Homo sapiens: one gene and its partner. The protein of the gene in region 1 interacts with the protein of each later gene in a pairwise test. Each region holds a gene or a part of one and is shown on either strand. Other genes may lie near its edges.

Region 1 (3,824 bases):
GGTACAGAAAGTTAGGAAAGGTGTTAGGAGGGTGGCAAGAACTGGATTTTAAAAGATAGTTGGTGACCCAAATTCTGTTCGCCTGATGCCATGTTACATAGTGGGAGGTAGGAAGATGTGTAAGGAGGCCACCGTGATGTTCAGTCTGGATGGTGGAAACTAAGAGCTGCAGACATGCAAATAGATGAGTCCTGCTACAGATTGCAAATGGGGAGTGGTGAGAGGTCAGAACGGACAGGGGAAGTGGGAAGGGCACGCTCTTGCTAGAGCTGGGGCGTTTTTTCCTGAAGGAGATGGGAATCTTTAAGCAGGAGAGAGACGTCAGTTTTGTGGCTTACAAAGATCACTGTGGCCACGGTGTGAAAGATGATTGAAAGGAAGGAATAAGACTGAGACTTCAGGGGAATGTTGCTACTGCAAGCATACAAAAAATAAGGAAGAGCAGAGGCAAATGTGGAAAGAAGGACCACCTTGGATAGACAGATGGGAGATGGAACTGATGAGTCTTTGTGACAGGATGTGGGGGTGGGGTGAGGGAGAGAAGCTGAGGATGATTTTCAGGTTTGGGGGGTAACAAGTAGATATATGAAGGATACCTTTACGGAAATATGGGTTGTAGGAAGAAGATCTGTTTCTAGGGAAGAGATGTCAGTTTTGGACCTAAAGAGTTTGGATACTTGTGAGACATCTGACTGGAAATGAGAATGGAATGTTGGATACCTGAGTCTGGAGCTTAAGAGAGGAAAGACGGAGAGAGAGATCCAGGCTAATTCTAGATTGGTGAGCAGGTAGATAGCATGACCCAAGAGGTGGTGGAAGAGGCAGGTAGGTGAGTGCCCAGGGTGGAAGCCCAAGAGAACAGACAACGTGGGAATGAAGCTCGGGGTGAAGTCCGGCCTCTGTCATGCCCTTAGGGGCTCAGCGTTCCCCATGCAAATCTGGTCTGAGAGAAGACTCCACAGCTTTTACTGGGAAGTCATCGGGTTCTGTCTGCTCCCAAAGCACTGCTTTTAGGATCTTAGTCCAGATCAGGAGTGAGCAAACTTTTCTGAAAAAGGCTAGATAGCAAATATTTTAGGTTGTGCCTGTCTCTGTCTTAACTACTTACCTCTGCCCTTACAGGGGGAAAGCAATCATAGACAGTCCTTAAAAGAATGGGTGTGCTGTGTTCCGTAAAAGTTTATTTGCAAAAATAGGAGAGGGCTGGATTCGGCTCTGGGTCATAGTTTGCTGACCCCTGGCCCAGCTCTTGCCCCATTATGTTAGAGTAGGTTGCATGGAGGTCTGTCTCTCCTATTAGTTTGTGAACTTCTTTGATGGAAAAAGCCTTGTCTTGTCTTACATTTTCTTAGGTTCCTTGGTTGATGAGCATAGTGCAGACTGAATGTTCAAAAAGCATCTGCTTGTTAGTTAGGGTGGCAGTGTTAAAGTTGGACAGGGTTTGGGATCACAGTCCATCCTCACATGGTCATTAGCAGGTGAAGAAGCCTGCTTTGCCCTTAGATGGAGTGACAGGCCTGAAGTTGCTTCCACATAGAATTGGGACTGGAGTCCAGCCAGAAGTGTGGATGCAAGGCGAGTTAGTGGTCTTTACTTTCTAATGGTAAGTGATGGCTCACGCTTTCAAGAATCAGGTTGTTACTCTTCAGTGGCATGTATGAAATAAGAATAGTGAAAACAATAATAATAATAGTTTACTATTTATTGCACTGTTACGAAATGTCAGGGATTATGCTGGGTTCTTCCAAAAATTAGCTCATGGAATCCTCACAACAGCCAAATGGGAATAGGCGTTATTATTATCTTCACTTAACAGAGGAGGAAATGGACACTCAGAGAGGTTGGGTAACTTGTGTGAGCATGGAACGCGGTTTGCCAGGGAGGAGTTGTACACACCCACTCAGTGTGATCCTGGATCCCATTTTCCTAGCCACTCACTATCTGTCCAGCCCATTTCATGAAATTGTCATGAAAGTCAAATGAAATAATGTGTGTAGAATACTTTCAAAATGGGCAGCATTATACGATTTAAGGTGAGATTAGGGTATTTGTATTAATGAAAAAAATATCCTGGCTCTTCGCATTTACCAACAGCAGGAGGATGATTCTGGAGAAGGAGAGGATGATGCGGAGGTTCAGCAAGAATGCCTGCATAAATTTTCCACCCGGGATTATATCATGGAACCCTCCATCTTCAACACTCTGAAGAGGTATGTGAGAAAGGTGTCTGTATTGGGAGGAGGCTGGGGGTAATTTAGAGAAAGTTTTGTAATACACCCAGAAGGTGCTATGTAAAGCAAGAGTAACGCGAACTGAACTAAAGGCTTCAAGGGGGGGTCCCCTCTGCCACTTTTTTTTTTTTTTTAAATTTTTTTAAGACAGAGTCTTGCTCTGTTGCAGTGGCACAATCACCGCTCACTGCAGCTTCAGCCTCCTGGAATCAAGCAGTTCTCCCACCTCAGCCTTGCAAGGTGGCCACCACAGGCGTCTGCCATCATGCCTGGCTATTTTTGTTTTTGTTTTTTGGGAGAGACAGGGCTCCTTACGTTGCCCTGGCTGCTCTTGAACTCCTAGGCTCAAGTGATTCTCCCACCTCTGCCTCCCAAAGTGCTGGGATTACAGGTGTGCACCACTGCACCCAGCCCCCTCCGCTGCTTTAAAAATTTTGAAACCTGATTCTCTTCCTCCTTCCTTACCTTCCTGTTGTCCATCATTCCATTCATTCGGGTGTAATTGCTGTTGTTACTTTCCCTAGGTATTTTCAGGCAGGAGGGTCTCCAGAGAATGTTATCCAGCTCTTATCTGAAAACTACACCGCTGTGGCCCAGACTGTGAACCTGCTGGCCGAGTGGCTCATTCAGACAGGTGCTTTGTGGGTGTCCCCTGTCCTGGCTAGTTACCCCCACTTTTTTAAAAATAGACTTTTGGGTCCTTATAACACTGATACAATGCCTTCTTTGATTTCCTGGTTTCTGAGACTTGTGTAAGAAAGAGCTGAACTTCTTACTCATTTTTATCTTTATCTTACTCATTTGTATCTGCTTGCCTCTTATCTTTGATTCAGTAATTGAGGTTTACTGGTAGCCTGCAAACGTGATTCTCATTGAGCTGTTTTCCCTACCATGTTGTAGAATTATAGGATTATACAGTGTGTGTTCAGTGTGTCATTTTCAAGACGTCTATTACAGCAAGCAGTAAATGACGGATAATTTAGGACTGGCTGTGATTATGGCTTTTAGTTAATATGATCAAAGTAGAGTCTTACTGTAAATCCACGGAGCCGGGTGCAGATGACATCACTGAAGTGCGTGCTGTCCGGAAGCTTGTGGACACACTGCTGTCCCGGTGATTAGATACAAGTGTGTCTCTTTTGGCTGCCATCTGCTCCCTCCTCACTGGGCAGGGATGTTTTTCCATCCCCCTACCTGTTGCTGGGGCCATTTGTCTTTATCCTCAGTGAGGCTCTGCAGATGGTGCTGTCCTTTCCATGAAGTTAGGGGTGGACCAGACTTGTGTGTTCTGTTCTGTGCTGCTTTTTGGTCTTATCATTGATAACTACTTTGAAGAGTTCCAAAACCTTACATGTATAAGTGGTCAGAAGCAATTCTTTGGTATTTGATTCACATAGAGACTTTTGACCATTTGCTTTCTAAAGCCACACAGTGAATGGACAGCTTGCCATTGTCTAGTTGCTTTTATTCTCTTTCAGGTGTTGAGCCAGTGCAGGTTCAGGAAACTGTGGAAAATCACTTGAAGAGTTTGCTGATCAAACATTTTGACCCCCGCAAAGCAGATTCTATTTTTACTGAAGAAGGAGAGGTGAG
Region 2 (3,824 bases), on another chromosome or scaffold:
AAAGTTCTTTTCTGCATATTTATTTTGTGTACATATGGGCTTGTTACAGTTTTCTTTTTGGACTCAGCCTGACCTAGGAGTTTCGTTTGTTGCTTTTTATTTACTCTCATTTAAGTATTTACTGAATATTTAGAGTAACTGCGTATATAAACAGTTTGAATTAAATAAACCACTTTATAAAATGTTTTAAGACTCTCGAATAACTCAACATCACGAACAGTAATTACATTGTTTTTGTTAGATTTTCCTATTCCAAAATAAACACGGTAGTAAAATTTTAACCTTTTAACGTTACTTAATTTCATTGTGTGTTTTGATACTTTTTAAAAACAACTGGGTTGGGGCGAGTAAGTATTTGTCCAAAAAAATTATGTATATAGTTTTGCATTATCAGAGGAATGAAAGCTTGTTTTTCAAAGTCTCCACAAACTGGTGACTTACAGCCTTGTTTTGACCACGTAAAGTACACCCTCTCCTTAATAACTTTCTCATTCTGATGGATATCCTCCTTATCACCACCCTTGTTCCACCAGTTGATGACTTGCCTTTCACTGCTCTTCATTGTAAATCACTGATTTAGAATATTTCTTTTTCCTCCTGTATACTGAGTCATCAATATTTATTAGTCCTTGTTGTAAGAGCGTATATTTGTTTGAAACAGCAGTTTGAAAGTGTTTAAATATGTAAAGTGTTTATTTTATCTGATGCACTGATGTTAAGATCCCTGAAAAACAGAACGTCTTAGCGGATTTTTCTTCTCAGTAATTTTTATAAAATCAGATTATTTTAGTTGACAAAGATGATGAGTACATTAAAATATACCAGTAACATTAAGCAATAGGTTTGCTCTGTGTGTCAGCACAGGGTTATTTAAGTTGTATGTCATACCAGGTGCATTCACATACCTAAGAAATAGTACCACCAGCAGTGTGTGATGTGAAAGCTCACAAAGGGCTTAATAAATAACAGTGCCTATGTAGTACTATATATATAGACCTAAAGATTGGCCACGTTAACTCTGTGGCAAAACCCATTTTATTTCATTTTACAAAGATTTTTTGAGGTCTGCATGAAAAGTTGTTCTCCATAGCAATAGCAGTTGGTCATTGTTCTCCTCTCATTGTTTAGACATAGCTTTTAAAATTGAATATATTTCTTAAATAATTTATAGATGTATTCAACCTCATAAAACTAATTTTTAAAATTAGCACCAAAAACTTCTTAATTCCCACCCCCCCCCGCCTTTTTTTTTTTTTTTTTTTTTTTTTTTTTAACATTAGAGAAAAAGATGTGGGATATGTCCAGAATACTAAACATTTGTTTTGGAGTGAACTGATGCTGAGAAAATACTATTTGTTGTTTTTGTTGTGTTTTTTTTTAGAGACAGGGTCTTGCTATGTTGCTCAGGCTGGCCTTGAACTCCTGGGCACAAGCTGTTTTCCCACCTCAGCTTCCTGTGTAGCTGGTACTACATGCACTTGTTTTGTTTTGTTTTAAAGCACTTGTGGTTGCCAATTCATTATGAATATGATACTTTTGTTTATAACTAAACTATTTAAATACTGTTTAGAGGAAACTCGTGGATACATTCATAATTTAATAATTCACACTGTACTCATTCTGTTGATATGTAAACAGATTTTATTTATCATCTGATTAAAGCCACAAATAAGAATGCTAAGTGAAATTTTTCTAATTCATTAACATTAGGAAGTAAACAGTTGGCCTCTGAAATAAACACTAATCTTTAGTATTGTGAAGTCCCAGTTTAAGGTTTCTCAGAATGTTTGTCTTTCAGTGTTAACGTTTGTTCTAATGCCCAGCTTTTATTGTATGCTTTTTCTGAAGGCTGTGAAATTCTGGTATTACTGGGATATTGGGGCTGGAGGGAGGAGTGGCAAATGAGATATCTGTATCTCAAATGCCTTTCTGGAATCCTTTTCTGTTCCATTTCCCAGAATGTGGCTGTTTTCATTTGATCGTTACAAAGAGTGGTTGTTTAACTTTGGTGTTAATGTCATTTATTTGACATTTCAAACTGTCTTTTCAAACTAACTTGATCAATATTGAGGCTTTTTTCCCATATTAGCCAGAAAGCAGATACTAGTTTTGGTAAATGACTTCTCTAAAGAAAACACTATGATTTGAAAAGACTAGCACACAAGGACAAATATGGAATTAAATAATTCTTCTGAGTAGACCTGTGTTCTCTGTTTCAAGTATGGAACTGCATAATGGTTCAGTTTGTATATAAGATAATAACTTTTTTATTGAAAAACTTGTGAAGGGGAAAGTCTTGCTATATCCTTGAGCCAGGAATCAAGGTCTCCATTGTTATCCTAGCCCCATAGATGTTTTTACTTAGCCCTAAGTTTCTAAAGTTTTATGTAGGGTTAATATGCAGTACAGTAATGAGGCAGGAATTTGAATATTTTCTTCATTATTGGAAATGAGTCTTGTAATTTAAAGACAAAAGCTTGTTTTGAGAAGTAATATTCATATACCTGCTGTAACTGTGAATGTCACTGCTCTTTTCTGGTTGTGCTTTGCCACAAATTTTATTGTGAATTGTAAAGATTTGAAACTCTTAAAATTAGCCATTTATATTTTGAAAAAAAGGGGTGTGATTATTTTAAAAAAAAAACATTTTAGCATGCAAAGAATAACTTGCACAATGGATAGAATATATATTGATTAAGGTTTAGGGTCAAGAGGTATTTCTCTAATCTGGTAGAAAAGTTTTCTCCTCAGGATGTAATCTTTGGGGCATGAGGGAAGACCAGTTTGGTTCAAATGATTTAAGACCCTGATGTGGTAGCACAACTTTCTTAAATATGGTTAACATCTCAGCACACAGATATACACCATCTTGTGTTGTTAACTGAAGGGTACATGGCCACCCTCTAAGAAGCAGGTCAAAAGGGATGGCTCATCCTCTCCTTCCTTAAAAAATAGGAGAAGAAAGTCAGTACTTTTTAATAATCAGGTATTGATATGATAGGATCACTCTCTGGTGTCTTTCTCCAATCTGCTGCTTCTCATTATATGAATATATTTGGTAAATTTTAATTTGCATTGATAGCATGTTGGGCATTGTTTTTGGAAGCTAAGGTTTTCCTTGTTCTTCAAGAAAACCTCTGATTTGTGGAATATTGATATAAAAATAACTTATTCTGTGTCTACCTCGGTGAAAGTACTGGAATTATAGGACTACTCACTTTTCATATACTTTAGATTTGGGAAGACCATGATGAAATAAGATGAATTACATATACTTAGCCATGTATTTCCTCCATTTCTTCTGAATATTACTTACACATTTAAGTTAAATATTAGAATTATACATTATTCTCTTGAATTGGGAAGGTTTATTTTTTAATGCATTTCTTCTTATAGCCAAAGGCAAATATTTATAAGACTGTATGTTCACATAAGGTGATTATATCAGGTTTTGTCACTAGCTTTAAATCCTCAATAGAGTATATAAAGAATACTTTCCAAATAATGTTCTAAGTATTATCATTAATAAATATGGTTCTTGGGTAATTAAAAAAATATTTTACATCCAAAAAAAAAATAAAAAGGTGATATGATTTAGAGTATGGTCTTTTCCCCCCACCAGTTTCTGTTTATGTTCTTTTTAGGTAAGGTTCACTTATAAAATTTTAAATCATAATGCATGGATCATTAGTTTTATTGTAGAACTGTACACATATTTTATTATTTCAGTTACCACTGTTGGGAATAGGACCTGATAATATTTGAAGTGTCTCAGATTCACATTTGACCTTTCAATGTCAGGGGTTAACTTGACAGAGGAGGGA

Evidence for each region.
Region 2: the proteins of NELFCD (region 1) and ZNF638 interact in a two-hybrid assay, tested with the Homo sapiens proteins (one large-scale study listed by BioGRID and IntAct).

The regions. Positions count from the first base shown.
Region 1 is NC_000020.11:58,983,999-58,987,822, forward strand, and holds part of NELFCD (negative elongation factor C/D), read left to right. Parts: intron 1-2,094; coding exon 2,095-2,210; intron 2,211-2,755; coding exon 2,756-2,865; intron 2,866-3,709; coding exon 3,710-3,819; intron 3,820-3,824. UniProt on the Homo sapiens protein: Essential component of the NELF complex, a complex that negatively regulates the elongation of transcription by RNA polymerase II.
Region 2 is NC_000002.12:71,418,732-71,422,555, forward strand, and holds part of ZNF638 (zinc finger protein 638), read left to right. Parts: intron 1-3,824.